4 linked regions of the Homo sapiens genome follow. The protein of the gene in region 1 interacts with the protein of each later gene in a biochemical or structural test. Each region holds a gene or a part of one and is shown in the gene's direction. Other genes may lie near its edges.

Region 1 (8,917 bases):
CTCAGCTCACTGCAACCTCCGCCTCCCGGGTTCAAGCGATTCTCCTGCCTCAGCCTCCCGAGTAGCTGGGACTACAGGCGCATGCCACCACGCCCGGCTAAATTTTGTACTTTTTTAGTAGAGACAGGGTTTTACCTTGTTAGCCAGGATGGTCTCAATCTCCTGACCTCGTGGTCCGCCCACCTCCGCCTCCCAAAGTGCTGGGATTACAGGCGTGAGCCACCGCGCCCGGCCGGCAATGGGGGCTTCTTAAAAAAGAGGGAGGCTGGGCCCGGTGGTTCACGCCTGTAATCCCAGCACTTTGGGAGGCCGAGGCGGGCGGATCACGAGGTCAGGAGTTCGAGACCAGCCTGACCAACATGGTGAAACACCGTCTCTACTAAAAAATACAAAAGTTAGCCGGGCGTGGTGGCGGGCGCCTGTAATCCCAGCTACTCGGGAGGCTGAGGCAGGAGAATCGCTTGAACCCGGGAGGTGGAGGTTGCAGTGAGCCGAGATCGCGCCACTGCACTCCAGCCTGGGCGAAAGACCAAGAGTCCGTCTCAAAAAAAGAAAAGAGGGAGTGTGGGGGTGGGGCCCGGAGCGCTCCAAGGGGCGGGGAAGGGGACTCCCAGGCCCGAGGACTCCTGGAAGGGAGGTGAGTGTGGCGCTGAGGAAGCGGCGGGACGGATGCGAGCCCGGGAGGAGCGCGCTGGGGGGCCGCAGGCGGGGGATGTGGCGCGGTCCAGGCCCGTCGCGGCCTCGTCCTGACAGGGACACCTGCGGGATCGTCCTTCCAGGATCGCCTGCGGGCCTCGCGGGCCGATGCCTCGGGTCCCCCTCCGGCCTCGGTTTCTCCGCGCAGCGGGGCGGGGCGGGGGCAGCGCGGGTCTCAAAGCTGCCTGCAGGGGGCGCCCGTGAGCGGCGCGGCCGGAGCCGGAGACCCAGCGGCCGCCGAGACAGCGGGAGCCGGCGTGCGAGCGGCAGGTCAGCCGGGGTGCTAGGTCTGGCGTGCGGGGTCCTGGGTGCCGGGTCCGGGGTGCGGGGTGCCGGGGGTCCGGGGCTGGTGGCCGGGCGGCGTGGGGCCGTCGGGGGTGCGGGGCCGGGAGGACTGGGAGGCTGGGGTTCTGCTCCCCTCAGGGTTCCTTTCCCGCCGCCCCGAGACCAGTTCCCCGGCGCGGGGTCCGAGTCCTGCCCCGCGGCGGCTGCCGGCACTGCCTGTGAAGGGCCCAGGCACAGTCACGTCCCAGGCGCAGTTGCGGCGCCGCGTGCGGGACCCTCCGAGCTGTCCCAAACTGCACCGGAAGGCGCGCAGGGGTAGGCGGGGAGGGAAGGCAAGTGCGGCGGCCGGCGCGGCGCGGGGTGCGGAGCCGCAGGTAGCGGGCGGGGAGCGTCCGTCCGTCAGTCCGTCCGTCCGTCCATGCGCCGCAGACCGGCCCCGCGCGCTCGCATGAACCTTCGCGAGCTCCTCCAGCAGGGATGGACCGGGGGCGCAGAGGCGCTTCCTGAGGGGTGGCGGGCCGGGCCCCGGGGCGAGGGAGATTCCCCAGGTGGAGGAGCCGGGCGGAGACCGGTTCCCCGGGAAGGTGAGGCGCGGGCAGAGATACCCGAGCGCCCGGGACGCGCCGAGAAAGGGGGAATCAGGAACGCTGGGCCGAGCGCTGGCGTCTTCCGTGGACAGTGGTGGCGGGAACTGGGTTTGGGGGACCCAGGAGACGACGGGGGACGGATGGGGGTGGGTGCGCGCCTCGGACTGGCCCCGGCCGTCTGTCTGGCTGCCCGGAGCGGAGGTAGGAATGGCGGGAATGGTGGCGGCTCTCGAGGGATTTGGCGCAAGGCGGCCCAAGGGCTTGAGGAGGAGGCCGCGGGCCGGCAGAGCTGAGGTCCCTGTGTCCCGCACTCAGACTTTAGTTGCCCCGACTGTACCATGGGAGGAAGAGGGAGACCCAGGGCTGGGTCCTAGGCTGGGGGAGTCGGGGCCCTGCAAAGACGCGCAGGTGTTTGTGGCCCTTGTTGGAGGGTGAGCCGCAGGTCAAGCCAGCCCTCCGTCGCCATCCTGAAGCACCTCCTCTCTTGGGCTCTGCCACACACAGGGCCTTCTCCCCTATTGCCAGGTGCTCAGGCCGCCTCCACCCTGCCTCTGCTGCCGGCTCCCCCTGGGTTCCCCGGCGGGGCACCCTGCCGATACTCCATGACGCGCCAGGGCTGCCCCAGGGTGCCCCAGCCCTGGGGACCATGGTGGAGGGTTCTGTGGAGCACCGCGGGCCTGGGAAGCTGTTGCGGGGTCGGGGCTTCCTCACTGGCCCTGCTTTGGCCGTTCCTGGAGGCCTTGGGTGGGGCTGGGAAGGCCGGGCCCTGTGGGCAGCACCCCCCCCCCCCCCGCCCAACATCCCGGCAGATCCATGGCAGGGGCGCCTCACAGGCTGGTCCACGGCCACGGTGTCAGTCCCTCCTTGTTCTGCGCTTGCTTTTTGGGGTCTCCCAGCCTCTCCCTAGTCCTAGAGTTTCTCAGGCAAATCCCAGCCACTACCCCTCCATCCGTGTCCCCTGTTTCCCCAGTGCTGAGCTGGCTGAGCTGTGAGCTTTCCTGCTCCTTGCCTCAGGAAGCCAGGGGCAGCCCAGTCACCTCTGGCCAGAGGCGGGCCTTAGGCCAAGGCTGACCTGGCTGGTCTGAGAGCTGTGCTGGGCTTCTTCCCATATCAGTCTGTGAATTACAGATCCCCAAATATGCCCTGCGTCGCGATGGAGGAGGGCAATCAATGGCAATGACTGCCTCATGGGCAACGCGATGTGCTGGAGATTTCAGTGCTCTCGTCTGGGTTCTGGTCTTGCCTCCTCGACCCACTCGCTGAGCAGGTTGCTGTCCCGGGGAATCTGATATCTCATCTGTAGAACAAGGATGATGATCTTAGCAATGCCTAATGTGGAAAGGCCTTGGCTTGGGAGCAAGTGGGGGAAGGTTTAGGGCAGACCAGAGGGCCGGTGAGGGGTGTGTGCTGGAGCGGGGAACCCGGGAGGGAGGGTGTTAGGCTTGAGGGTCAGGGGACACCACAGGGATTGCTGTTGGCAGAGGGACATATGAATGGTAGTTGGCCTGGGAGCCAGCATGTGACTTGAGAGCATCACGTCCTGCAAAGTCCAGGTGAGGCCTGGGCAGTGCCTGCTGTGTGGGACCACAGCCCCTGGTGGCTCTCAGCTGTGTCCTGACACTCCAAAGAAGGTCTTAGTACCCTCTCACAGACCTAATACCCGAGCCACCTAACCCCAAATGAGCTAGAACTGCCTTCCCAACCGTGTTTGCGGGGTCTGTCTTGTCTATTGCAGCGCAAACAGAGCCCTGAGCACGCAGGAGAGCAGAGGAAGGACAGACAGAAGATGGATGGATGGATGAAGGCGGGAAGCACAGGCTGAGGGGATTTAGGGCATGTGTGGTGGGGGTGCTGTGGAGAGGAGACTGCACAGGCAGGAGCTGAGCTGGTGAATGGGAGGGTTCTAGCTCCCAGAAGGGTCTGGGCCATTGACAGGAGGGGCTTGGTCCTAGGAGGTGGGTGGTCCAGAGGTTGCAAGGAGCAGAGGAGCCCAGATGGGGAAGGGAATGGAGCTGGGGTGCAGAGAGGAGCCCCCACACAACTGCCCACATCCTGTGCAGAACCTGGGGCTCTGGGTGGTGGGAAGAGGCAGTTTCATGGCGGAGGAGGCCTGGGCCCCTGCAGCCTGGACTCCATGGATCTGGCCAGGGACTGGGGAGGATCAGGTGGAGAGAGGAGCAGCAGAGCAGCTGCCCCTCGTCCCAGCACAGGGGATGATGGGAGCCCAGGGAAGGCAGGACCCTGGCTTCGGGCATTTTCTCTGCTAGAATCTCTCGATACCTCTCTCCCTTCACCTTCTCCTCCAAGTCTCACCCAGATGATGTTTCTGTGAGTTGCCATGGGGATTCTCTCACCACCCCCCGCCAACACCCCGCAGGGGAAGCTTGTTCCAGGAGTCACTGGGCAGGGGCTGCTGCTGCTCTTCTGTGCCCACTCCTCGGATGTGCCGCTGCAGCCCTGGTCTCTGGCATCGGCCGTCACCTGGTGGAGAGGCTGCCGGAGCTGGCCAAGCAGAGGGAGGCCGATGGTGCCACTTGGTGTCTCCTCTGGCATCTGGGCAGGAGACTTCTCCCCAGAGGCCCCGGGCTGGTCTGCCCGTGTCACAGGAGGACTCGCCTCTGGTCCCTCAGTGGCCTCTGCAAACCCTGAGCCAGCCTGGGGGAGGCTGCTCAGTGGGGAAGAAGCAGTGGCCAGGCTCTGCTTGGTCACCCTGCCCTCCTGTCAGCCTCCGGGGCTGCCTCGTCGCACCTGCCCAGGGACCCAACAGCCGGTCCTCACCCCTCCCATCCTCATTGCAGCCACCCTGGGGCATTGTGAGGCCCTGCACCCAGCACTGCCCCTTCAAGCCTCCCACAGGGTCCCGCCCAGGACTCCTGGGCTCTGTGTCCGCGGGGCCATCTAGAAACACTCCCTTGTCCCCCCTTCAGCGGCATAGTACCTGTTGCCCGCCATCTGAGGGAGGTGCAGGTGCCAATCCTTCACGTGACGTGACGTGGCTCACCACAGCCTGTGTACATGTGAGCAGCCGCGTGCAGAGGGGAAGCTCTGCCTGGGCCTCAGGGACTGTGACATGGAGCAGGAGCCGCCCCCAGCCAAGCTGCTTTCAGCACAGCGTGGGCCCCCAGCACCTTGGTGCGGGGTGCGGCCCCTCGGAGGAGGGCTGTCAGGTGAAGCCTCGTGTGAGGGGGTGAGTGGCCCCCAGGCGGGGAGGAGGGGGTGCTGTGGCCTTCCTGGCCCCTAGCCTGGACACATGGGGGTGTGGGGAGCAGGAGCTGGGGCCCCCAGCACTGGCCCCGGGGCTGCGATGTGGGGGCTGCTCTGTGAGGCAGGCTCAGAGCCTTAGCCTCCAGCTGCAGGGAGCTGGGTCTTGGCCCCATCTTGCCCACATCCTGCCACCAGGAGCAGAGAGCTGCAGCTGCACCCGGGCTGTGGGGGAGGGATGCCAGGTGTATCTCTGGGTCCCGGGCCCAGCCTGCACCCAGCGCCTGAAGTAAGGGCCACCGGGCAGCCCCGGAGGTCAGGAGGGAAGTGGAGCCCGTGCTGGGTGGCTGCTTACCACTGGGCAGTGAGGAAGGCACCTGCGCTGATGAGTTTGGAAGGGGTATGGGGATCCTGGGGCCCTGGGTTCTGGGAGGTTCATGCCCAGGCCCCCCTGGGCCATCCCAAAAGCCAGTCATAGTGGGGCCCACAACCTGCCGTGCCCTGCCGAGCTCCCGCAAGCCACTTGTTGATGCTTCTCAGTCCACCCCATGCCTCTCAACCGTTTCCTCCTAGACTAGGTCTCTTCATGGCGTTTCTGGGAGAATTCCTCAGTACTAGCTTCAGATCCCCAGTCGTCTCTTCCACTGTACGTGTGCCTGAAGCTCACCACATCCCTTACTTCAGTCCTTCTATTTTTCAGTCCCTGGATTTTGTATTATTTCTTGTTCATATCCACCTGTCCTTGTTTCATTTCCGCCAGTCGGTTCAGAAGTTCTCATTCTTGTCTACGGATGCCATTCCTTTCTTTGCCTCTTTGGAGATTCTAAAGGTCTCTGAAATCATTATTAGATTACTGTATTACCTTCCTTCCTACTGGAATGAATTCACCTCCATGTTTTTTATTCTGTTGCTTACCTTTCTTAGCCTTCATATACCTCTTGCGCTTTGAAATTGATTTGCGACTCCTCTTAGCTGAGCCAATGTTGTGGAGACAGGGAGTGGCCTGCAGTGCCTGAAACTGCAGGGCAGCAGCCGCCTCCCAGGAATGTCCTGGGTCCTTTCCTCCTTTGAGGTCCCCTGCCATATGCTCAGATGGGGCCAGGCACAGCAACGGGGGCACACCTCCCTTTGGCCCAGCAGTTGGGGTGCTGCCAGGCCTGGTGGAGGTACTTGGTAAACATTTGTTATGGAAAAGCAGCAGGAGGGTTCTAAGGCTGGGATTCTGGAGCCCAGGAACAGGCCAGGCATGGCTGGAGCGGGTCCGAGTCCGTGCACTGTGTCCTGTATGTTGCTCTTAGCCGCACTCAGGAGCAGATGTGCAGGTCACTGCCTAGAAGCTGGTGGGCACCTCCGTGCAGCAGGCTCTGGGGGGTATAGCCACCATCTGGGCATGTGTACAGAGGGCCTTGCTAGTGCGACATATGAGGAACCAGAAGATGTGTGGGTTTTGATTAAATGGAGTTTTAATTAAAGTGGCCAGGTTGGGGGAGGTGAGGAGGAAGGCAGGAAGCAGCAGCAGTTTTGAGTCTGACCGCGTGGAATCCTATAAGGTGGTTCTTTCAAGAGGCATTATGCACATTCCGCAGCATGTGTCCCCTGTCTGTATGGGGCAGCATCTGCCCTCTGATCTGTCCCCAACAAGGGGTAATCACAGAGAAGTATTACATTATTAATATTTAATTTCCCCTCCTGGTTAGCAACAGATGACTCAAGGAGTAATTAGATGCACAGAGCCAACAGAGAGGGATAGGAAATTGCCAGATCCTGGCCCCGCCCCCTCCCCGGGGCCTCTGACCTTCCTGTCACTCTGGGAGGCTTCTGAGGGAGGGGAGCTGGAGGCCCAGGAGCCTTCCTGCTGCTGTGCTCTCTGTGCGCACGGCCGCAGCCCTACACCACCTTCCAGTGCTCTTGGTGAGGCTGAGAGAGGTCGCTTCGTGCCTTTGGGCCTCAGTTTCCTCATCTGTAAAATGGGCTTCCTGGGACCAGCAAGATCACAGATGACAGTCATTTCCCAAGCTCCTAAGCAGGCTGCACAAGCTGTGTCTGAGGGTCCAGTGCAGTGCCTGGCCTCTAGGCAGGTGCCCCCTGGGACGCGTAAGGTTTGGCAGCTCAGCAGTGACTGGCATCGTGGCCAGCTGACTCTGTGTTGCTCCCCAGTTACGGTCCACGACACATTAGTAGCTTGAAACTGGGCACAAGGGGAGAATTTACACCACAGAAATCAGGCAAAGCCTGTAAGTCAGGGTGCCCCCGGCCAGGAGCTGATTTGCCAGCCTACGGCTGGGTAGCTCCCAACCTTTCCCCAATGAATGCACTCCTCTTCCCCTGTCTGCCCCAAAGGTGCCTCTGACTCCACTGATCTGCTTTGCTCAGGGCCGAGAAAGGCACAGCTGAGAGTGGATTCTGGCTTGGCAGGGGCCCAGGTTGCCTGTGGGTCCGGGCAAGCCTCACCCGGGATGTGCTGGCAGCAGCTGGGAGAGCCTGCAGGAGTGCTTAAGGAGGGGCTGAGGGAGAGGACGGGCAGCGAGGTGGCCTGTGTGGACCCTGCTGGCAGGAGCCGTGGGTGTCTTTAGCCCCGTGTGAGGCCGGCCTGGGCAGAGGGGTCTGTTGCTGTCACTGAGGCTGGTGGGCAGCAGGAAGGTGGCTTCAGTATAGTCAAGAAGGTTATCGGTATCTAGTGCTGTTTAGCATGGGGACCCACAGCACAGAAGGTGGGGAGACCCTGAGAACGGGGGTACACAGGCAGGTACCCAGGGCTGCCAGGGAAGCCTTGCCAAACAGAGGCCCTGGTCAGGCTTCTCCCAAACTGGGCATCCCAGCTGGCATGGCACCAGTCCAGCCCGTGAGGCAGGCGCCGATGATTTGACCCCACCAGCAGGGCTCTGGGTGATGGGACTGGGGAGTCCTCCTTCACTTTGGCAGACGTGTTATGTTCCACCTTGTTTGCCCCCAGCAAGGCCCTTGAATCTGGAGCGTGGTCTGGGGCTGCATCAGCCTTCTAGCCTGGGATGGTCAGATTGGCAGAAGGCTGTGGCATCCTTCAATGCAGATGCCCTAGAGAGGGCCGTGGTGGGAGGCAGGATCCCTGGGTAGAGGCGGCTCCTCAGTGGCCCACTGGGCCTCACTGGACAGTCGCCTGTTGCTGCTGCTGGTGGTGCTGGGCCTGGGAGTCCACCTTGGAGCCACAGGCCAGGCACCTGGGTGGGAGGCAGCCCGGGGCCAGCACCAGCTCCACTTGTACCTGTTGGGCAGGGGCTATCGTGAGTCAGGTGGGCCCTGGTGAGTACTGCTCAGGGAGAGAGGCCAAGAGCATCAGGGATAACTGTGTTCCTTGAGTGTGGCCAGGGATGGTGCCAGGAGAGCTGGTCTGGTGCATCCCTGCCAACGACACACTTTGTGAATGGCTGCCTGGCAAGTGCTCCATGGAAAGCAGGGGCTTGGGAGGACTCGGCCCTCTCCAGCTGCTGCAGGCCCTCCGTTGCTGCAGGGTTTCTGGCTCTGCTCTCTCCTTCCTCCTCCTGCTTCTGTGTCAATGCTCCATTCCCAGGCTCCTAGTAGGGGCAAAAGGGCCTGCTGGGTGCAGGAGAACCTCCAGTCCCAGGTATGGCTGCAGCCCGTGCCAATCCTGTTCCAGCCACTTGAGGTGCCGACAGCATTGGAGTTGGAGGGAAAGTTGGGGTCTGTGTGTTTGAGCTCTGTCACATGGACAATGGGGTAGAGGGGAGCCTGGCCCTTTGAACAGGGCTCAGGACCAGGAGTGACTTCCTCTCCAGGTTGCCAGTCCTGCTCCATCCCTCATGTCCTGGAAGAGAGAGAGAGACGAGGTGGCTGCCCGAGTCCACGTGAAAGGCAGCCTCTGACCTCTTGTCCCCAGGCAGGTGGTGGCGGCTGGCAACACACTCATAGGGCCCCATGAGGGTTCAGGATTGGAGGGGGTAGATTTGGGGGCCTCTTAGCTCTCAAAGAGGGGCAATTTAACGGGCAGAGGTCCATTTGGATCCAGACCATTCACAGGCTCGAAGGGGACACTGGGAGTTGGGGCTGGGCTCAGGCCTGCTGGGGAACCAAAACTTCTGCTTCTGAGGGGTGTCAGTAATTCCATTTTGACTCTGGGGGAGCCATTTTAAATCTGTTTATTTCCTTCTCAT
Region 2 (5,907 bases), on another chromosome or scaffold:
TTTCTTGAGGCTCCCTGGACCTTTTTTTTTTTTTTTTTTTTTTTTTTGAGATGGAGTCTTGCTGTATCTCCCAGGCTGGAGTGCAGTGGTGGGATGTCGGCTTACTGCAACCTCTGCCTCCTGGGTTCAAGCAATTCTCCTGCCTCAGCCTCCTGAGTAGCTGGGATTACAGGTGTGTGCCACCACGCCTGGCTAATTTTTTTGGTATTTTTAGTAGAGACGGACAGGGTTTCACCATGTTGGTCAGGCTGGTCTCAAACTCCTATCCTCATGATCTGCCCACCTTGGCCTCCTAAAGTGCTGAGATTACAGGCGTGAGCCACCACACCTGGCCCAGAGGCTCCTGGACTTTGATCCAAAAAAGGTTTGGCATAGAGCAAAGTGATCAGCCAGACAGTGATGTGAAAATGCTGAGTCCATCAACTATGAGTTTTTCTTGTCAGTGGATGTGCTGTGTCTCCAGGCCCTGGAGGCTGTGCAGGTGGTTGTGGACATGGATGGGGCCTCTGTAAACAACCTCGTCTGTTTTCCCCATTTTTGGGGGCTACTTCTGCACTGGGCTCTTGAGGTTCTAGTCCTTTCTTAGCCCATTTTTAGTCCATTCTTATCCATTCATGGGTAAGAATGAAAAGTGGGGGAGGGTTATTTTATTTTGACCGAGGAAGGGAGGTCATGGGGGCCTGATGGGGTGTTTAGGGAGAAGGCCTGACGTGGAGCCCCACACTGACTCCTGCTGTGCCCGGCAGCACCTGCAGCTGGTCCGGCAGGAGATGGCCGTGTGCCCCGAGCAACTGAGCGAGTTTCTGGACTCTCTGCGCCAGTATCTGCGGGGGACCACTGGCGTGAGGAACTGCTTCCAGTGAGTGAGCTGCCGAGGCGTGGGTGGGATGGTGGCAGGGAGCTCTGCCTGGCAGTGGAGGAACAGGGCAGGACTAGGCTTTGCCCTAAGTAGTACAAGTTGCACCCCAGGGACACACACAGCTGGATGCGTAAGAAGTGGGTTCAGGTCTCTACTGAGGTTCCTCCCAGCCAAGCAAATGTGGCAGGTGTCTTCATCTCCCTGGCATCAGCTTACTCATCTGTAAAGGGGGGACCACCCCCAGGACTCCTTGCTGGGGTGATCATGAGTGCATATACAATCAAGTGTGTGAATCTCAAGTGTGAAGGGCTCCAGCTGGGCCTGGTGTGCCCCGTGCGCTCAGTCAGCCTCAGCTGCTGCTGTCACAGGGGTTCCTGCACACTTAAGTCCAGGCCCAGAATGTAGTATTTGCTCAGTTAACCACTGAGGAAGGAGAGGAGAGTCGGTAGCTGAAGGGAAATGCCCAAGTCATGTAGTTGCCCTTCTCCCCCTGATGTGCTGAGATGTCCAGGGCGGGGCAAGCGGCCTTACCTTCAAATTCCTGTTCATCCCACCAGGCTGATGTAGCTCCTTGGTAAAGCTAAGGCATGTGGCCAGGGCCAGAGTGGAGGGGGTTGCAGAAGACAACAGCCCTTTGTTCTTGCTGGTAGTGGTCCCCCGCCCCCCGTTTCTGCAGCAAGGCTCTGCCCAACTCCCTTCCCAGGGCTTTCTTCCATCCCCAGAGCACACACTCATTCACCCCATTGCCTGGGGACATGGCTGTGAACCAGGCAGGCCAGGTCCTAGCACAGGGTCTTTGAGAGGGGTCTTCTTGGGCCCCCTGTGCACTGAGGCTTGAGTGACAACAGCCTGACCTGTAGCACGAGGGGAGGAGTAGCCTGGGCAGGAGTGCGGCCGTTCCCGAGACTCGGCGTGGCCACGAGGGGCCATTCTTGAGTAAGTAGCCAGGATGGGGGGGCAGGACCCACTCCACTCCAGGAGGACAGACTGCACAGGAGCAGGGGCCAGACTTGATCTTTTTCCATTACGTGAATAAGTGGGAGGCTCCAGGGTGAAGTAGGGCCACCCCGATGCGCTGTGGAGAGGAGGCACGGTGGACGTAGAGGCTCTGGTTTGTCGAGTTGGAGACGGCAAGCCTGGAGAGCCAGGTGAGATTCTACTTCCCAGGCATGGTGCACCTAAAGCTGCACGGAGGTGTGTCCACCCCAAGATGGAATCCAGCCCGGCCCCTTCCTCTAGGCTGAGCACTGTAGCCCCTCCTCCCCAGCTTTTGGCCCCCGCTTTATGGTCACTTGGGGCTTCCTCATTGTAGTGCACTTGCAGAGAGGATTCTGGGGCGGCATAGACTATCAGCACCTTTAAAATGACGTGAGTGCGGGCCCCTGGGTCCCATAGAGCAATGGGGGACTTGCCTGCAGCCCCTTCCTCTGTGGCCCAGCACCCCCTCCCCTCAGCCTCCTTTGGTCAGGTCAGGTACAGTGCAGTGGGGGTGTTGCAAGGATTAAATGAGAGGACAAGTAGAAGGAAGAAGAGGGAAGATGCTTTGATTTTTAAAGGTTTTTTGATTTTTAAAGGTTTTTTGAGACCAAATCTTGCTTTATTGTCCAGGCAGGAGTGAGTGTGTAGTAGTGGAAGCTCAGCTCACTGCAACCTCTCACCAGAGGGTTTAAATGAGTCTCATGCCTCAGTGTCCTGCATCGCTGGGATTACAGGGATGTGCCACCAGGCCCAGCAAGTTTTATTTTTTTTTTTTTTAAAGAGACAGTGTTTTGCCATGTTGGCTAGGCTGGTCTTGAACTCCTGACCTCACGTAATCCACCTGCCTCGACCCCTCAAGACTTCCCAAAGTTCTGCGATTACAGGCGTGAACCATCACATCCAGCCACCTGGTTTTGTTTAAATAAATGTTCACACTTTAACATGACATTTCAGCTGGGCACAGTGGCTGAAGTTTGCAATCCTGGCACTTTGGGAAGCCAAGGTGAGAAGACAGCCTGAGCCCAGGAGTTAAAGACCAGCATGGGGAACATAGCAAGACCCCATCTCTATTGGGACAGTTTTTGAATTAGGCCGAGTGGTGCACTCCTCTAGTCCCCGCTACTTGGAAGGCTGAAGTGATTGTGCCACTGCACTCCAGCCTGGGCAACAGAGTGAGACCCTATCTCAAAAGAAAAACTACACTGCATTGATTCTATTTAATAAATAGCTGTTGGCCACTATAAGAAGCCAGGCCTTATTCCCTGTGCTGGGGTCACCCTGTCGAGTCTCGATGGAGGTCAAGACAGGAAGAAACATTGAAGGCAGCCGTTGTGTATAGTGGTGGGTCTCAGGCCACCCCAGGGGAACAGCACTGAGGTGGCCTTGGTTGAGCTCCAGCCTCCTCCCCCCGACCATCTCCTGTTGCAGCATCACTGCCGTGAGGCTCTCAGATGGCTTCACCTTTGTCATCTATGAGTTCTGGGAGACAGAGGAGGCGTGGAAGAGGTGAGATGCTGGGTCCCCACAGCAGGTGAGGGAGACAGAGGGAAGTGGGGGGGCTGTCTTCCTGGAGCCAGGCATCCTTGGAGGGGAGGGTAAGGCCGAGTCCAGTCAGCAGATTCCCGAGGCATCTACCCGCTGGCATGCTTGCGTCAGTAAACCCTGGTGGAGGCAGGAGCTCTTGGTGGGTAGTGAGAGCCCCCACCACACTCAGCTGGGCTTTCCTGCTTTCCCCAGGGTTGCTTCTGTGCCCCTAGAGCACCTTGTCCTCCTGGAACAGCCCTGGGGGCCGAGGCACTGCCTTCTTTACCACCCTGTAGAGTTGAGGGCCTAACCTAGAAGGTGACTCAGTCCCCATGTGATCAATTGTTCCAGCGACTAACCTCCCCTCCAGCTGAGTGCCCGGTACGAGGGACGGAGATGGGGTAGGGTGTCAGCAGCTCTGATGGGCCTTAGGCCTTTGTCCTCTGCTCAGCACACATCTGGGAGAGGGTGGAGACTATTGCTGATGCGCCAGACCCCACAGGCAGGAAGCGGGGCCTAGGGGTAGCCCATGCCCCCATCTCCTGCTTCCCTGGTAAACACTCACGGTTTGCTGACAAACTCAGGACCCCAGTGGGAACAGGGGCGGTCATGAGAAGTGAGAGTGTCCCCTCCCTGTCCGTACTTCAGTGACTCATAAAACGAGGGACTAAAAGCCTTCGCAGCTTCTGTGTTGTCATGGGTCCCAGGCAGAGGATGGCCCCACTCCTCCTGCTAGGGTAAAGGGGGAGGTAGAGGCTCTGTGCAATGAGTGGGGGGATCCCGCTGCCCATTTATAGCTCACAGGGAAAAAGAGAAGCTCACTGCCCACCCCAGAGTCAGCCTCCCTGGGCACCCCCTCACCTTCCCACAAAGGCTCTGAGTCCAAAGACCCCCCGTGCTTATTGATAAGCTCCCCATTTTGGGCTAGAGCTAGGATTAACAGGGGAGCCACACGCGGAGCTCCACTCCTGCCACCCCTGACTCACACATGTCCCTGCGTCACAGGCACCTGCAGAGCCCCCTGTGTAAGGCGTTCCGGCACGTCAAGGTGGACACACTGAGCCAGCCTGAGGCCCTCTCCAGGATCTTGGTGCCAGGTAGGGGGCAAAGGCCTGGAACTGCAGTGGCCACCTGACTGGAGAGAAGGGCAAGAGCCTAGAGGCTGCCCCATATCTCCCGGGGACTTGCCTGCTTGCTGTGGGCCCACTGTCAGCTCCTGCCACCAATGCCAGGCTCAGAGCCAGCCCTGAGGTGGCCCCACATACAGGTATGCCTGCCAGAGCTTGCACCAGAGCACCCCCTCCACGGCCCCCTACTTCCAGCCAGACTGAATTTCCCTTCCCAGGTGTGTGGTTTGCACCTGGGTGACCAGCAAGGACCTGTGTGTCACACAAGGACTCAAAGCCATCCCCCGACCTGTCATTCAAGACGACCACCACCAGCTACGAGGCTGCCCACATTCGCACTCCTTCCCTCTAACGTGTCTCTCTCCTTTTAGCTGCTTGGTGCACGGTGGGACGGGACTGACAGCCTCCCAGAGGCCCGTGGAGGAGCCCACCAGCCCCTTCTTCTTGTGAAGGAAATCCCGTTTTTTTCTAGACAGACACTTTGGTGCAGAAGCTTCTTTTCAATCCATCCTCCACAAGAAGGTGTTTCCCTGTTGTTAAGTGAAGGAGGCCGCCCCTGCCCCCACCTGAGAAGGCAGAGCAGTGTCTGTGCTGCCAGGTCCTGGTGAAGCCCAAGGTTGAAGGGGGCGGCTTCCTGGAGCCAGCACCCCTGCCTCCTGGTCCTGGCCTCTCCCCTACCCCTCACATGGCCACGCATGACCCACACTGACCACACCCTGCCCTCTTCGGTGACATTCTTCTACCTAGTAGGAGTCATGCCCCTGTAGTGCCCAACCTAGCCAGGTAGCCACCACTGTGCCCAGGCGCCAAATAAACCCTGGTTGGGAAGAGCTGTGTGCTCTGTGTCTGTTTCCTGGTTGACAACAGCAGGGGGCCAGGGACCCTTCAAGTGCTCCCAGCCTCAGTTTTCTGAACCATGAAATGGTGGTGGTCACTCTATGCGGTATTTGGGAACTAGGCTCATGCCTATTCAGGAGCTCAGCACCACACCTACCCTCAGGTCAGTAATTCAAAGGACTGGGCACAACTGTCAAAGTCACGGTCAAGGTAGGTAGATGACAGACAGACAGACAAAATCCAGCAAAGAAAGAGGCTCCCGGAGTGGGGGGCCAGGCACGGGGCTACCAGTAAAGGCCCATAGCACTGAACCCTCCCAGCTTCAATGCTGATAGAGCATCACCAATCAGGGATGCAGTCCTGAGTCTTACTGGGGTTCGGTGACGCATACACGCTGACACCTCATGGCTCAACACCCCACCATAAATCACATGGTTGGCCCAGACCACGCAGTGTGGCTCAACACAGACACTGTCACCAGGCAGGACGCTCCAGGGACGGGTGAATGCCTCCCGGCACGTCTGTGCATTAGCCATTCAACACAGCAGGAGACCCCGCCTATCAACTGGAAATCATGTCTTA
Region 3 (5,320 bases), on another chromosome or scaffold:
GGCAGGGGCCTGGACACCTGGGTCTGACGGAGGAGGGGCCGGGGGCCTGGACCCCTGGGTCTGACGGAGGAGGGGCCGGGGGCCTGGACTCCTGGGTCTGACGGAGGAGGGGCCGGGGGCCTGGACTCCTGGGTGTGAGGGAGGAGGGGCCGGGGGCCTGGACTCCTGGGTCTGAGGGAGGAGGGGCCGGGGGCCTGGACTGCTGGGTCTGAGGGAGGAGGGGCCGGGGGCCTGGACTCCTGGGTCTGAGGGAGGAGGGGCCGGGGGTCTGAGACTCCTCCTGGGTATGAGGGAGGAGGGGCTGGAGGCCTGGACTCCTTGGCCCTCATCCTGGGACCCCTCCCCTTCTGCAGGGCGGCTGTGAGTGTGGACCCCTTCTATGAGATGCTGGCAGCGAGAAAGAAGCGGATTTCAGTCAAGAAGAAGCAGGAGCAGCCCTGACCCCCTGCCCCCAACTCCATTATTTATTACGGAGCTGCCCCGCCTGGGTGGCCGGACCCCTGGGCCTTGGGGCTGTGGATCCTGGTTCCCTGTTTGGAAAATTCACCACCTCTAGCTCCTCACTGTTCTTTGTAATTAACACGCTGTTGGTAATCTTATTAATTATTTAACCACTTGGCCTGCTGACCCCCTCATTTCTTGGGGTTGACAGAGTCGAGGTGCTCCGTGGAGCCAGCCTGTTTCCCTGGACAGGGGCCTGGACCCGCCTGTCTCTGGGTGCTGCCTGGGCTGTCCCGGTGGGTCTGTTCTGGTTTCACCCCGAGCCCAGCAGGAGTGGAGTAAAGGGAGAAGGTTAATATGGTGGGAGTCTGGAGTTGGAATTGGCCGGGGACAGAGTTTAGAATGCAGGGATTCAGGGTCAAGGTCTAGCATTCATTCTAGAAGTTACTTGACAGCCATCAGCCAGTTACGCTACAGCCATCAGCTAGTTCCCATCGTTGCTTTCATGGGGCTTGAGGTCTTTGAGGGGCAGGAGATGAAGCTGGTGAGGTTGTGAGCTGGGCCAGGGCTTTGAGGACAACCTGGAGCTGGAAGAACATGCGACCACCTCAGGGAGGGTCAGGGAAGGATGAGTGGGGAGGTGGCCCATGTCCTGCAAGGGCCTTGCTGATGGGATGTCCTGAAGGGCTGGGCAGCCTTAGATCGGGCTAAGAGGGCAGGACTGTGGGCCAGTGCCAGAGCCAGGCTTGTCTGTTCTCAAAGGATCAGCCTCCTTTGGAGGACATTTTGTGTCAAGGATAGGGCTGAGGACCTGCGTTCTGAACGTCTTTCCTGGGATTCTTGACAGCCAAAGAAATTCGAGGATCGCCTCTATGAAGGTGAAGTCTTGGCATGTGGGGTACCCCTGAATCCTGGGCTAAGGTCTGTGACCTTTTGCCCTCCAGTTGGGGTATGTGTGGTGTCCCCAAAGAACAAGGGCTCGTGGATCCCGAGCAGGGTGCGATGGCGGATTGGGAGGTCCCATGTCACTCTCCCATGCCCGCCTTTGAAGCTGAGGCGCTCTTTAGTTAACAAACTACAAGTCCCAGCAGGGACCGGGACGCGGGTGGGAGAGGCGCCTGTGGCCCCGAGGCGTGCCGCGAGTTGTAGTCCCTCCTGCCCGCTGTGTTCGCTTTTGAGCTCTCCGATGGGATGCGGCGCTTCGGAATTTCGGGCTTTGATCCCTGTCCCGCCCTTGGCCACAGGCACCTGCCGGCCTGAAGGCCCCCGCGGTGGGGGTACCCTGCGCCCCTCCGCGGGAAGGTGGACTACAGTTATCGGCAGGCTGTGCGGCGCCAAAGCCACGGTGACCCAGACCCGAGGTTTTTCCGGGCGTCGCAGTTTCCCGAGACTCCGTGGCGGCGTTTGTCTTCTTTTTCTTAGTCAGATCCCGTACTTTTGTGGAGGGTAGAGGAGGCTTTGACCGCCGCGGCCCCGGGGGCTGGTGGGAAATGGAGTTCCAAATGAGAAAATAGAATTCCCCACTTCTCTTTCCCACAGGTGCCAGGGAAACGGAGTCATCGACCCAAGAAGGTCGTGGGAGATGAGGTCCCAGGGTAAACAGCGGGTCCCGCCACTATGTCACCCTTTCCTGCCGCCTCCCCGGATGAACTGCATGCAGGGCGGCCGGCTCCGTGGCAGGCAGAGGCAGGAAGAGGCGCGGAGCCCGCTGGTGGCGAAGAGGGGAGTGCGGCGGGAGGGGAGGGCAGAGGCAGGCGGCCGGTCGCGTGGGGCCTGGGCCGCCCCAGGAGGGCCTCTGGCTGGATTCTTAGCAGATGGAAGCCGTGCAAGGGCAGGAGGCAGGGGCCTGACGTGTTTGGATTGAGGTTGCAGGAGGGGCCCCTGGCTGCTTCAGGGAGAATAATTTGGAGGCGAGCGGGGAGGTGAGAGGAAGCTGTGCGGTGCAGGATGGCGTGGCTGTGGAGGTGGAGAACGTTGGGCCACGCTAGGAGTCTTGAAAGAGGAGCCAAAAGGACTTGCTGAGAGCCGCCGCAGCTGGTGAATGACGGTGCCATGACTGAGGTGGTCGAAAGGGAGTATTTAAGGGGAAATCAGGCATTCCGTTTTGACCAAATTAAGCTGGAGATGCCTGTGGAACATTCCAGCCAGGCTGCATCACGTCACACTGACCTTCAGCATTGCCCACAGTCCATCTTCCCCCAGGACCTGAGGATTTTGCGTCCGGCTCCCTCCTCGCCCAGGACCCCCAAGCTCCCAGCACGCTTCTGATTTTTTTTGTAGGTTTTTTTTTTTGTTTTTTGTTTTGTTTTGTTTTGTTTTTGAGAGGGAGTCTCACTTTGTGCCCTAGACTGGAGTGCAATGGCGCCATCTCGGCTTACTGCAACCTCCACCTCCCAGGTGCAAGCGATTCCCCTGCCTCAGCTTCCCGAGTAGCTGGGATTACAGATGTGAGCCACCGTACCCAGCTAATTTTTGTATTTTTAGTAGAGACGGGGTTTCACCATATTGGCCAAGCTGGTCTCGAACTCCTGACCTCAGGCGATCCATCTGTCTCAGCCTCCCAAAGTGCTGGGATTACAGGTGTGAGCCACCGCGCCAGGCCTCAGCCCACTTCTTTTGGGTGGCAATGGTTTGGATATCGTTTGTCCTCACTAAAATTCATGTTGAGATTCGAGCCCCAGTGTGGCAGGTGTTGGGATGTGGGGCCTCATAAGGAGCTGTGTGGTCTTGGAGGTGGAGTCCTCATGGATAGATTAATGCCTGCCTTAAGGGGTGAGTGAGTGCTCACCCTTGGGAATTTGGGAATTTGGTTTTCTCTCCCTTGCTTCCTTCAGCACCATGTGATCTCTGTGCACACAGCTGCATCCTTCTGCCCTCCCCCAGAAGCAGCAGCAGCCTCAGGGATGAGGGAGGTCCTCAGTGAGTGCACCTGCCCAGTCTTGAACCTTCCAGCCATCAGAATCTGAGCCAAATCAACCTCTTCCTTTATAAAGACCCAGCCTCAGGTCTTCTGTCAGAGCAACACAAAATGGACTCAGCACGGATCAAATTGTGTCTCCCCCACCCCCACAAAAAACTTTATATTAAAATCCTAACCCCCAGCATCTCAGAATGTGATCTGATTAGGAAATAAGGTCATTGCAGATATAATTAGTTCAGATGAGGTCATTCATGTGGGCCCTAATCCAATAGGATGTGTGTCTTATAAAAGTTTGTACAGAGACCCAGACACACAGAAATGACACCATGTGGAGGTGAAGGCAGAGATTGGGGTGACGCCTCTACAAACCGAGGAAAACCAAAGCTGCCGGCACACCCTCAGAAGCCAGAGACCGGGGACTCATCCTCCCTCACAGCCTCAGGAGCAGCCAGGGCTGACACCCTCATCTCAGACTTCTGACCTCCAGCACTGGGAGACCTTCAGTTTTTGTGATTTAAGCCACTAATTTTGAGGTACTTTGTTATGTCAGCCCTAGATAACTAACCACTCCTCCCTCAGACCCAGGAGTCCAGGCCCAGCCCCTTCTTCCCTCAGACCCAGGAGTTGGGGACCCCGGCCCCTCCTCCCTCAGACCCAGAAGTCCAGGCCCCAGCCCTTCCTCCCTCAGACCCAGGAGTCCAGGCCCCCATCCCCTCCTCCCTCAGACCCAGGAGTCCAGGCCCCCATCTCCTCCTCCCTGAGACCCAGGAGTCCAGACCCCCATCCCCTCCTCCCTCAGACCCAGGAGTCCAGGCCCCCATCCCCTCCTCCCTCAGACCCAGGAGTCCAGGCCCCCATCTCCTCCTCCTTGAGACCCAGGAGTCCAGACCCCCATCCCCTCCTCCCTCAGACCCGGGAGTCCAGGCCCCCATCCCCTCCTCCCTCAGACCCGGGAGTCCAGGCCCCCATCCCCTCCTCCCTCAGACCCGGGAGTCCAGGCCCCCAGCCCCTCCTCCCTCAGACCCGGGAGTCCAGGCCCCCAGCCCCTCCTCCCTCAGACCCGGGAGTCCAGGCCCCCAGCCCCTCCTCCCTCAGACCCGGGAGTCCAGGCCCCCAGCCCCTCCTCCCTCAGACCCGGGAGTCCAGGCCCCCAGCCCCTCCTCCCTCAGACCCGGGAGTCCAGGCTTCAGCCCCTCCTCCCTCACACCCGGGAGTCCAGGCCCCCAGCCCCTCCTCCCTGAGACCCAGGAGTCCAGGCCCCCAGCCCCTCCTCCCTCAGACCCAGGAGTCTAGGCCCTGGTCTTTCCTCCCTAAGGCCCAGGAGTCCAGGCCCCCAGCCCCTCCTCCCTCAGATCCAGGAGTTCAGGCCCAGCCCCCTCCTCCCTCAGACCCAGAAGTCCTGCCCCCAGTCACCAGCCCTTCCTCCCTCAGACCCAGAAAGTCCAGCTCTCACCTTCCCCCCGCTGCCTTGGTTCATGCAGCACCCACCCACCCTGTGGCAGGTGTCTCAGGATCACTTCAAGCACCACCAAGTCTCCCAGCAGGACTTATTGGGAAGAAGCTAAAACCTTATCCTCTCTCTCCCTTTCCCCAATCCCCCAGGACTCACATGTGACCCTAATGCCGCCATCACCTTAACTCCGAGGCCAGAGTCTACACTACAGCCTCCCTAACAGAGGGAAGGGGCTGGGTTCCCACCCCTTGCTCCTTCCCTCTCCCCGCATCCAGACTACATCCCGCAAATACACCAGTGAACCTGGTACCAAGGTGATGGGGGACAGGTCAAGGCCAAGAGATCAGAGCCACAAAGACAAACCCGGTCAGAGGGAAAAAGACAGAGTCAAAACAGAATCCGGGAGAAACCGAGAACAAGAAATAGAGACAGCCTGGCGTGGTGGCTCACGCCTGTAATCCCAACACTTTGGGAGGCCAAGGCAGGCAGATCACTTGAGGTCATGA
Region 4 (9,137 bases), on another chromosome or scaffold:
AGTAGCTGGGATTACAGGCCCATGCCACCACGCCCAGATAATTTTTGTATTTTTAGTAGAGATGGGGTTTCGCCATGTTGGTCAGGCTGGTCTCGAACTCCTGACCTCCTGATCCGACTGCCTTGGCCTCCTAAAGTGCTGGGATTACAGGCATGAGCCACTGCGCCCGGCCACCCCCACCATTTAAATCAAACAAACTGGCTAACAAAGTTTAAAGACTTTGTAAATAATGGTGACCTTGTAGTCCGGGCACGGTGGCGCATGACTGCAATCCCAGCACTTGGGAGGCGGAGGATCACTTGAGGCCAGGAGTTCAAGACCAGCCTGGGCAACATGGTGAAACTCCATCTATACTAAAAATATGAAAATTAGCTAGGTATGGTGATGCAGACCAGTAGTCTGGTTAGCTAGGCATGGTGATGCAGACCAGTAGTCCCAGCTATTTGGGAGGCTGAGGTAGGAGGATCACTTGAGCCCAATAGGTCGAGGCTGCAAGTGAGCCATGATTATACCACTGCACTTTAGCCTGGGCAACAAAGACTCTGTCTCAAAAAAAAAAAAAAAAAAAAAAAAGGTGATCTTCCAACTATGGAATTCACTTTATTCTTCACATTTCAACTACCAGCATTTTGTAATCTTTTATTTATTTATTTTTCTTTTTTTCCCTCCAAATACCCAGATATCAAGAAGAATATTTTGCAATCCTAATATTAATTTTTAAGGGCTACCAATAATTAGTGCGCTATTTTTATAGCTATTAAAAGCACTAAATTCCTGACTTAAAAATATTGTCCAAATTTTTCATTTTTATAATTAGGTTTTGTCCCCTTTTCTAGTGGTGCTGAGGACTTGTCCTACTTGTCTTCCTTAAGACTGCCATAAATGGTTTGGTGAAACTGCTAAAAAAAGAAGAGGGAAGCAGACACCCTGAAATGTAGATTCTGAACCGATGTCAGTAACCAACTTTTTTTTTTTTTTGAGACAGAGTCTCTCTCTGTCACCCAGCCTGGAGTGCAGTAGTGCGATCTTGACTCACTGCTACCTCCATCTCCCAGTTTCAAGTGATTCTCCTACCTTAGCCTCCTGAGTAGCTGGGATTACAGGTGCTCGCCACCATGCCCAATTAATTTTTGCATTTTTAGTAGAGACAGGGTTTCACCACATTGGCCAGGCTGGTCTCGAACTCCTGACCTCAGGCGATCCGCCTGCCTTGGCTTTCCAAAGCCAAAGTGCTGGGATTACAGGCGTGAGCCACCACGCCTGGCCTCAACTTTCTTTTTCCATAAATAACAGGACTAAAGGTAGTGTTTCTTTTTTGATAACATTTTTAAGAGTTTCAGCCGGGCACGGTGCCTCACACCTTTAATCCCAGCACTTTGGGAGGCTGAGGCCAGTGGATCATGAGGTCAGGAGTTTGAGACCAGCCTGCCCAACATGGTGAAACCCCATCTCTACTAAAAATACAAAAATTAGCCAGGCGTGGTGGCGCACACCTGTAATTCTAGCTACTCAGGAGGCTGAGGCAGGAGAATCGCTTGATCCAGGGAGGCAGAGGTTGCAGTGAGCTGAGATTGCCCCACTGCACTCCAGCCTGGGGGACCCAGCAAGACTCCATCTCAGAAAAAACAACAAAACAAAACAAAACAAAAACGAGTTTCAAAGAACTTTCATAGAAGGGGACTTGTTAGGGTTGGCTCTGCAGATGTAGAATCATCATGTGGTGGTGGTAACTCTTATCTACAGGGGATTAATTACTATGTGGTTATTTAAGGCAGTTTTAATTCCATATTTACTTTCTCCTACTATCTACCCAATTGCCAAGAGGCCTTTCTTATCAGATGGTGTGTGATGGATGACCCAGGGAGTGCAAATTAATTTCAATTGGCCAAACCCAACATAAAAATAGTAAATCTGTTCAAATGACCTACCGTATTTTCACTGGGCCAGTTCCCCTTCCTTCACCCCCGACACAAAACATAGCTCATCTTTTCAACAGGAATAGGTAGAAAAATAAGAATAATAAAATAAAATAGACATGGCTTCTCTGTTTCTCCTCTTCTCCCTCACAGCCACCTCCATAGTGAGAGGTTCCTAATGGTTCTGTGTCTGAGTTACACCACCGTGGGCGTGAAGCACCCTCAGCCATTTTGTCTCTGCTTCAAAACTTCCTATAATGCCTGCCTGCCTTTTAAGGCAGGATATATGGTCTGTCTGGCCTCCTTTCTAGCTTTAGATCCCCTTAGGCTGTTGTAGCGTTGTAGTGCCCGCCTCAACTGGCCTAATCCCCACTCTCTGATCCTGTCCTGCCTTTTCCAGAAATTATCTTCTGGTCCCTTGAGTCTCCCCTCCTGTAACATGCATCCTCATCTTTATTCTGCCAGCATTTTTTTTCAATACCACACTCAAATGTTACTCAAGTCAAAGGCTTCCTATGAGAGCAGGGGTTGTGCCTGGCGTTCTACAGCCTTTGGTTCACACCCCCTTTTTTTTTTAGAGGGGGTCTTGCTCTGTTGCCCAGGCTGGAGTGCAGTGGCGCAATCTCGGCTCACTGCAACCTCTGCCTCCCAGGTTCAAGCGATTCTTCTGCCTTAGCCTCCCGAGTAGCTGAGACTAGGTGTGGGCCACCACTAACGGCTAATTTTTTTTTTTTTTTTTGTATTTTTAGTAGAGAAGGGGTTTCACCATATTAGCCACGCTGGTCTCGAACTCCTAACCTCGTGATCTGCCCGCCTCGGCCTCCCAAAGTCCTAGGATTACAAACATGAACCACCGCGCCGGACGCCCGGTCTTTTTTTTTTTTTTTTTTTAAGACATTTCGGTCTCCACGTTGGTCAGGCTGGTCTCGAATGCCCGACCTCAGGTGATCCTCCTGCCTCGGCCTCCCAAAGTGCTGGGATTACAGGTGTGAGCCACCGCGCCCGGCCGGTTCACACCCTTTATTTGTATTTATTTTTTTTTTTTTGAGACAGGGTCTCACTTTGCCGTCCAGTCTCAAGTGCAGTGGCGCCATCTCGACTCACTGCAACCTCGACCTCCTGGGCTCAAGGGATCTTCCTACCTCAGCCTCCCAAGTACCTGGGACCACAGACGCGAGCCACTGCCCGGCTATTTTTTGTATTTTTTTGTAGAGACGGGATTTCGCTATGTTGCCGAGGTTGGTCTCTAACTCCTGGGCTGAACCTATCCTTCCGCCTCAGCCTCCCAAAGTGCTGGGACGACAGGCTTGAACCACCGCGCCCGGCCTGGTTCACACACTTTAATGGCACTTACCACATACTGCTAGGCATTGAGGTTATTTCTGTAACATCTCTTCTTTTCTACTAGATTCTATGAGGGCAGGAACTAGGTCTTATTTTTCTCTGAGGACAAGGACTGTTAGACAAGTGTATGGAGACGCATCTAGACCAACTGCCTGACTTCCTCTTTCCTCTGGGTTTACTTCTCCCTCCAAGAGGAGGGTTGTGTGTGTGAGCGGGGCGACTGGAAAACATAGTGTTCAGGACGTTGTATCTTGTTCCAGGAACTAAGTACACGCCTGGGTAACTAATGTGGAGTACCTCTCCTTCCCCTGTTGCTATCGCCCCTCTGTGGCTGCTTGGCAAGTAGCTCAGTATGAAGAGCTGACGGAATTCTGCGGTGGGCCAGGTGGCTCTGGCGTCGACTGTTTAAGGCGACTGTTAATGACTACAACACACCATTGAGTCTTGGTCCCAAGGCGCTGGTGCACATGGTACTTCCCGAAATCCCTGTAGGGCCGCTGGAGCAGGAGCCCCGATCCCACGTTTGGGCAGCTGACTCGCCTAAGGCCTCCAGCTGAAAGCGGAATTGCAGGGGTGAGAATGAGCAGACCTAACTACCGGGCTTCTCGCACCTGGCCTGCATTTATTTAGGACCACGATAACCTCGAAGGCCAGGCTGGGGTGCCCGATGGGTCGTGGGCTTGCTGCCTAACTCCCTGAGATCGGCGGGCTGAACAGAGCTTCGAAGTGTAGCGCCATCCTGAGCAGAGGAAGGGGCGCCCGAAGGCCGCGTAGCGGGCGGCAGGGCGGGAGGAAGTAGCAGCTGCTGCTCCCCGCCCACCCCTCTCGCGTGTGCCTTTCCGCTCCACTGTTCGCCGGTGAGCTAGGTGGCGCGAGAGCGGAGGGGAGAAAAGACAGCGGCTGCAGGAGCCGAAGGCCGCGGCTCGAGGTGGGGCAGGGGCGGGCACGCGAGCGTGCGTGCGTGGGCGCGGTCTATAGCACGCCGCGCGCGGGGCGGATGTCCGGGCCGGCTGGGCCGGGGCCGCGGAGGAGATGGCGGAAGGTGGAGGCTGCCGTGAGCGACCGGATGCGGAGACTCAGAAGTCCGAGCTTGGACCCTTAATGAGGACCACACTCCAACGCGGGGCGCAGTGGTGAGCTCCCGGCTCGCTCTTCCTCTATGCAGAACCAGGGGCCGAGAAAAAGGGGCCTCCTTTTTCTCGGCTAGAGTAGGGGCTGGGCGGGGATGGTATGTAGTGACCCTGGAAGAGTAGCCTGACACCTGCCCCTCAGGAGAATAACTCCAGGATCAGCTCTGGGAAAGCGCAGGCGGGGCCTGAGTGTCGTCTCAGTTCATTTGGAGCCCTAGGGGGCGGGCCCGGCGGGGGCCAGGAGGAGGGATGTGGAGAAGGGGAAGGTTGGTGGGGACCCTAAGGGTGGGGAGAGCCCTTTACCATGAGGACTCGCCGTGTGACCTTGGGCGAAGGTGTCACAGACCTGGATTCCTCACTGTTAAAACCAGGATAGCAATATTTGGCTCACCGACCTCAGTGGGTTGAGGGGAAAATCAGAAGTAGATACTTTGTAACTTGTAAACTGCCAACAGATGTCAAGGTCAGAAGCTGAACAAATGTCTGAGAACCCCGATTATTTTGGTAGCAAGTGTCAAAAATATTTGCGGCAGCAGTGTCTTGGAGTGGGAGAGGAGGATAGCCTAGGTCCTGGAGCTAGATAGAAGATGAAGGGTCCAGAATTTAGAAGACCCAGGCTGAGTTATTAGGCATCTTAATAGATTGTTTAGTAGAGGGGACAATACTTTGTACTACTGGAGAGATTCCTGGGTGGTGTAATTGTGTAGGAGTAGAAAAACTAAGGCTAGACTTTGCATCGAGTATGATTGTTACCCATCTTGTTTGTTTTGTTTTGTTTTGAGATGGAGTTTCACTCTTGTTGCCCAAGCTGGAGTGCAGTGGCGTGATCTTGGCTCACGGCAACCTCCGCCTCCCGGGTTCAAGCGATTCTCCTGCCTCAGCCTCCCGAGTAGCTGGGATTACAGGCTCACGCCACCACACCCAGCTAATTTTTTGTATTTTTAGTAGAGACCGGGTTTCACCATGTTGGGTAGGCTGGTCTCAAACTCTTGACCTTATGATCCACCCGCCTCGGCCTCCCAAAGTGCTGGGATTACAGGTGGGAGCCACCGTGCTCGGCCCGAGTGTTACCTATCTTTAAGAAATCATTGTGGTGATGATCTGCCGAGGAATTGAGCAGGAGAATAGAAAAATTGGGGTTAGGAGGAGTACAGATAACAGCTTATGTATTCACCTTGAGCTAACCAGTTTGTGAAAGGCAGGGTAAACAGAGGTACTTTTTTTGTGTTTTCTTTTCTTTTCTTTTCTTTTTTTTTTTTTTTTTGAGAAGGAATTTCGCTCTTGTTGCCCATGCTGGAGGGCAATGGCGCGATCTCGGGTCACGGCAACCTCCCCCTCCCATGTTCAAGCGATTCTCCTGCCTCAGCCTCCCCAGTAGCTAGGATTACAGGCATGCGCCACCACGGCCGGCTAATTTTTTTTGTATTTTTAGTAGAGACGGGGTTTCTCCATTTTGGTCAGGCTGGTCTCGAATTCCAGATCTCAGGTGATCGCCCGCTGTGGCCTCCCAAAGTGCTGGGATTACAGGCGGAAGCTACTGCGCCCGGCCTAGCAGAGGTACTTTTTAAGTTAACCTCTATAGGGTTCATAAAGAATACTCAGCAGAAGTAGAGGAAGTTTAAGATAGACTAAAATCATACAGTAAAATTGTATGGAAGGTATTGCTCAAGGGATTTGGAAGAAAAATAGCATTTTAGAGATGGATGTGTTTATGGATCCTTGTGACCTCTGGGAAGCTGCCTGACCTCCTCTCACATTTGTTGGTTATAAAATTTTAAGGATGCACCAATATAATTGTTGATGCTTTGTTGCTCCACAGAGATTGTTTTAATTGTAAAACAGCATAGAGATACTTTTTTTTTTTTTTTTTTTTTTTTTTTTTGAGACGAAGTCTCGCTGCATCACCAGGCTGGAGTGCAGTGGCGCGATCTCGGCTCACTGCAATCTCTGCCTCCCGGGTTCAAGCGATTCTCCTGCTTCAGCCTCCCGAGTAGCTGGGATTATAGGCATGCACCACCATGCCCCGCTAATGTTTGTATTTTTAGTAGAGACAGGGTTTCACCATGTTGGCCAGGATGGTCTCGATCTCCTGACCTCGTGATCCACCTGACTCAGCCTCCCAAAGTGCTGGGATTACAGGCGTGAGCCACCGCTCCCGGCCAGCACAGTGATACTTTAAAAATATAAACAGGTCTGGTGCAGTGGCTCATGCCTGTAATCCCAGCACTTTGGGAAGCTGAGGCAGGAGGATCACTTGAGGCCAGGAGTTCAAGACCAGCCTGGGCAACATAGCAAGAGCTAGCCTCTACAAAATAAAAATAAAAAAATAAATTAGCCAGGCATGGTGGTATGTGCCTATAGTCACAGCTACTCAGAGGCTGAGGCAGGAGGATCACTTGAGCCCAGGAGTTTGAGGCTACAGAGAGCTATGATTGTGCCACTGCACTCTAGCCTGGGTGACCCTCTCTCTAAGGAAATAAATAGGTAAATAAAATACCACATTTGCTTACATTTAAGTAAAAAAGTGGTAAGTTGAATATGAAGCACAAATTAATGCTTTTTGACAAGATGAACAATAGGCACTATTATATGTACATGTGTATGTGTATATTTATATATGTACACGCATGTTATGTACTTTTTTTTTTTTGACAGGGTTTTATTCCTGTCACCCAGGCTAGAGTGCAATGGCATGATCTCAGCTCACTGCAACTTCTGTCTTCCGGGTGCAAGTGATTCTTGTGCCTCAGCCTCCCGAGCAGCTGGGACTACAGGCATGTGCCACCACGCTCAGCTAATTTTTGTAATTTTAGTAGAGATGGGGTTTGTTGCCCAGGCTGGTCTTGAACTCCTGAGCTCAAGTGACCATCCACCTCGGCCTCTCAAAGTGCTGGGATTACAGGTGTGAGCCACTGCGCCTGGCCTTGTGTGTACATTTTTGGAACTCCTTTGGTCCTTAAAGGAAAACTGAAGTGGGTGGTGTTTCTAACCCATTTTCAGAAAGAGCATTAGTTTAGTGCTGTTCATGTCAAGCAAAACAGTGTAACCAAACTGTCTGCCTGGAGTGGGACTTCTGTAAAGATCATTATGAAATTAATGACTTGTGGCCGGGTGCGGTGGCTCACGCCTGTAATCACAGCACTTTGGGAGGCCGAGGTGGGCAGATTACCTGAGGTAGGGAGTTTGAGACTGTCCTGACCAACATGGAGAAACCCTGTCTCTACTAAAAATACAAAATTAGCCAGGTGTGGTGGCACACACCTGTAATCCCAGCTACGGGAGACTGAGGCAGGAGAATCACTTGAACCCGGGAGGCGGAGGTTGCGGAGAGCCGAGATCACACCATTGCACTCCAGCCTGGGTAACAAGAGCGAAACTCTGTCTCAAAAAAAAAAGAAGTTAATGACTTGTTTATTAGCAAACATGATTTTACCCATGAAAAGACTCCATTTAGACTGAGTGTGGTAGCTCATGCATGTAATCACAGCACTTTGGGAGGCCAAGGCAGGAGGATCACCTGAGATCAGGAGTTCGAGACCAGCCTGGCCAACATGGTGAAACTCCATCTCTACTAAAAATACAAAAAAATTAGCTGGGCCTGGTGATGCATGCCTGTAATCCCAGCTACTTGGGAGGCTGAGGCAGGAGAATTGCTTGAACCCAGGAGGTGGAGGTTGTAGTGAGCCAAGATCATACCACTGCACTCCAGCTTGGGCAACAAGAGCGAAAACTCCGTCTCAAAAAAAAAAAAAAAAAAAAAAGAGGCCAGGTGCAGTGGCTCATGCCTGTAATCCCAGCACTTTGGGAGGCCGAAGTAGGCGGATCACCTGAGGTCAGGAGTTTGAGACCAGCCTGCCCAACATGGTGAAACCCCGTCTCTACTAAAAATACAAAAATTAGCTGGGAGTGGTGACAGGTGCCTGTAATCCCAGTTAGTCAGGAGGCTGAGGCAGGAGAATCGCTTGAACCTGGGAGGCAGAGGTTGCAGTGAGCCAAGATTGTGTCACTATACTCCAGCCTGGGCGACAGAACAAGACTCCGTCTAAAAGAAAAAAAAAGAAAGACTGCATTTAAATAAGCATTTTGAAACCACTTGTTTTCTTTCTTTTATTCACTCTTTGAACAATCATTTCACTTAATGGATGCATACCCTGGGCCAGACTCTCTGTGCCATGTGGGGCCTGGGCCCTGCTCTTGCTCTTGTGACAGTGTTTTTTAGTGGGTATTGCATATGCCCCAAGTGGAAGGACCATAAAAAAGATTAAGGAAGCAGCTGCAGAAATTTATAATCTCAGCTTTTCTGCTACAGTAAATTTCTGTCTCTCTCTAGGTATCTTATTGACAGCCGGTGGTTCAAGCAGTGGAAGAAGTATGTGGGCTTTGACAGCTGGGACATGTACAATGTGGGTGAACATAACCTATTTCCTGGCCCAATAGACAACTCTGGGCTATTTTCAGGTATAGTAAATGTTGCTTTTCTAGCTAAACATTCACCTGGGCAGTGGCCTGATGTTATGTGCATCTGTAACATGGACGTTGTGAACTTTCCTAGTGTGAGGAGATAGAAACAAGTATCCTCATTTTGCATCTATAGCAGAAGTCTTTGCAAACCCTTAATGAGAAGTTAAGCTACTTTTTTCCCTTAAATTAACTGCATCTGATAAGAGTATGCTTCTAACATTTTAACTTTCTCTCTTTGCAAATTAGTTCTGCTAGCTATTTCACATTTTAAGTTAGTATATGGAAT

Evidence for each region.
Region 2: the proteins of ADORA2A (region 1) and NECAB2 form a complex in vitro, tested with the Homo sapiens proteins (one study listed by BioGRID and IntAct).
Region 3: the proteins of ADORA2A (region 1) and CYTH2 form a complex in vitro, tested with the Homo sapiens proteins (one study listed by BioGRID and IntAct).
Region 4: the proteins of ADORA2A (region 1) and USP4 form a complex in vitro, tested with the Homo sapiens proteins (one study listed by IntAct).

Annotation. Positions count from the first base shown.
Region 1 is NC_000022.11:24,422,992-24,431,908, forward strand, and holds the start of ADORA2A (adenosine receptor A2a), read left to right. Parts: upstream 1-4,607; 5' UTR 4,608-4,755; intron 4,756-6,214; exon of another isoform or gene 6,215-7,373; intron 7,374-7,905; exon of another isoform or gene 7,906-8,571; intron 8,572-8,917. UniProt on the Homo sapiens protein: Receptor for adenosine. The activity of this receptor is mediated by G proteins which activate adenylyl cyclase.
Region 2 is NC_000016.10:83,997,459-84,003,365, forward strand, and holds the end of NECAB2 (N-terminal EF-hand calcium-binding protein 2), read left to right. Parts: intron 1-746; coding exon 747-859; intron 860-3,265; coding exon 3,266-3,343; intron 3,344-4,366; coding exon 4,367-4,458; intron 4,459-4,859; coding exon 4,860-4,888; 3' UTR 4,889-5,318; downstream 5,319-5,907. UniProt on the Homo sapiens protein: May act as a signaling scaffold protein that senses intracellular calcium.
Region 3 is NC_000019.10:48,478,770-48,484,089, forward strand, and holds the end of CYTH2 (cytohesin-2), read left to right. Parts: intron 1-353; coding exon 354-441; 3' UTR 442-3,545; downstream 3,546-5,320. UniProt on the Homo sapiens protein: Acts as a guanine-nucleotide exchange factor (GEF). Promotes guanine-nucleotide exchange on ARF1, ARF3 and ARF6. Activates ARF factors through replacement of GDP with GTP.
Region 4 is NC_000003.12:49,335,180-49,344,316, reverse strand, and holds the start of USP4 (ubiquitin carboxyl-terminal hydrolase 4), read left to right. Parts: upstream 1-4,263; 5' UTR 4,264-4,292; coding exon 4,293-4,393; intron 4,394-8,720; coding exon 8,721-8,848; intron 8,849-9,137.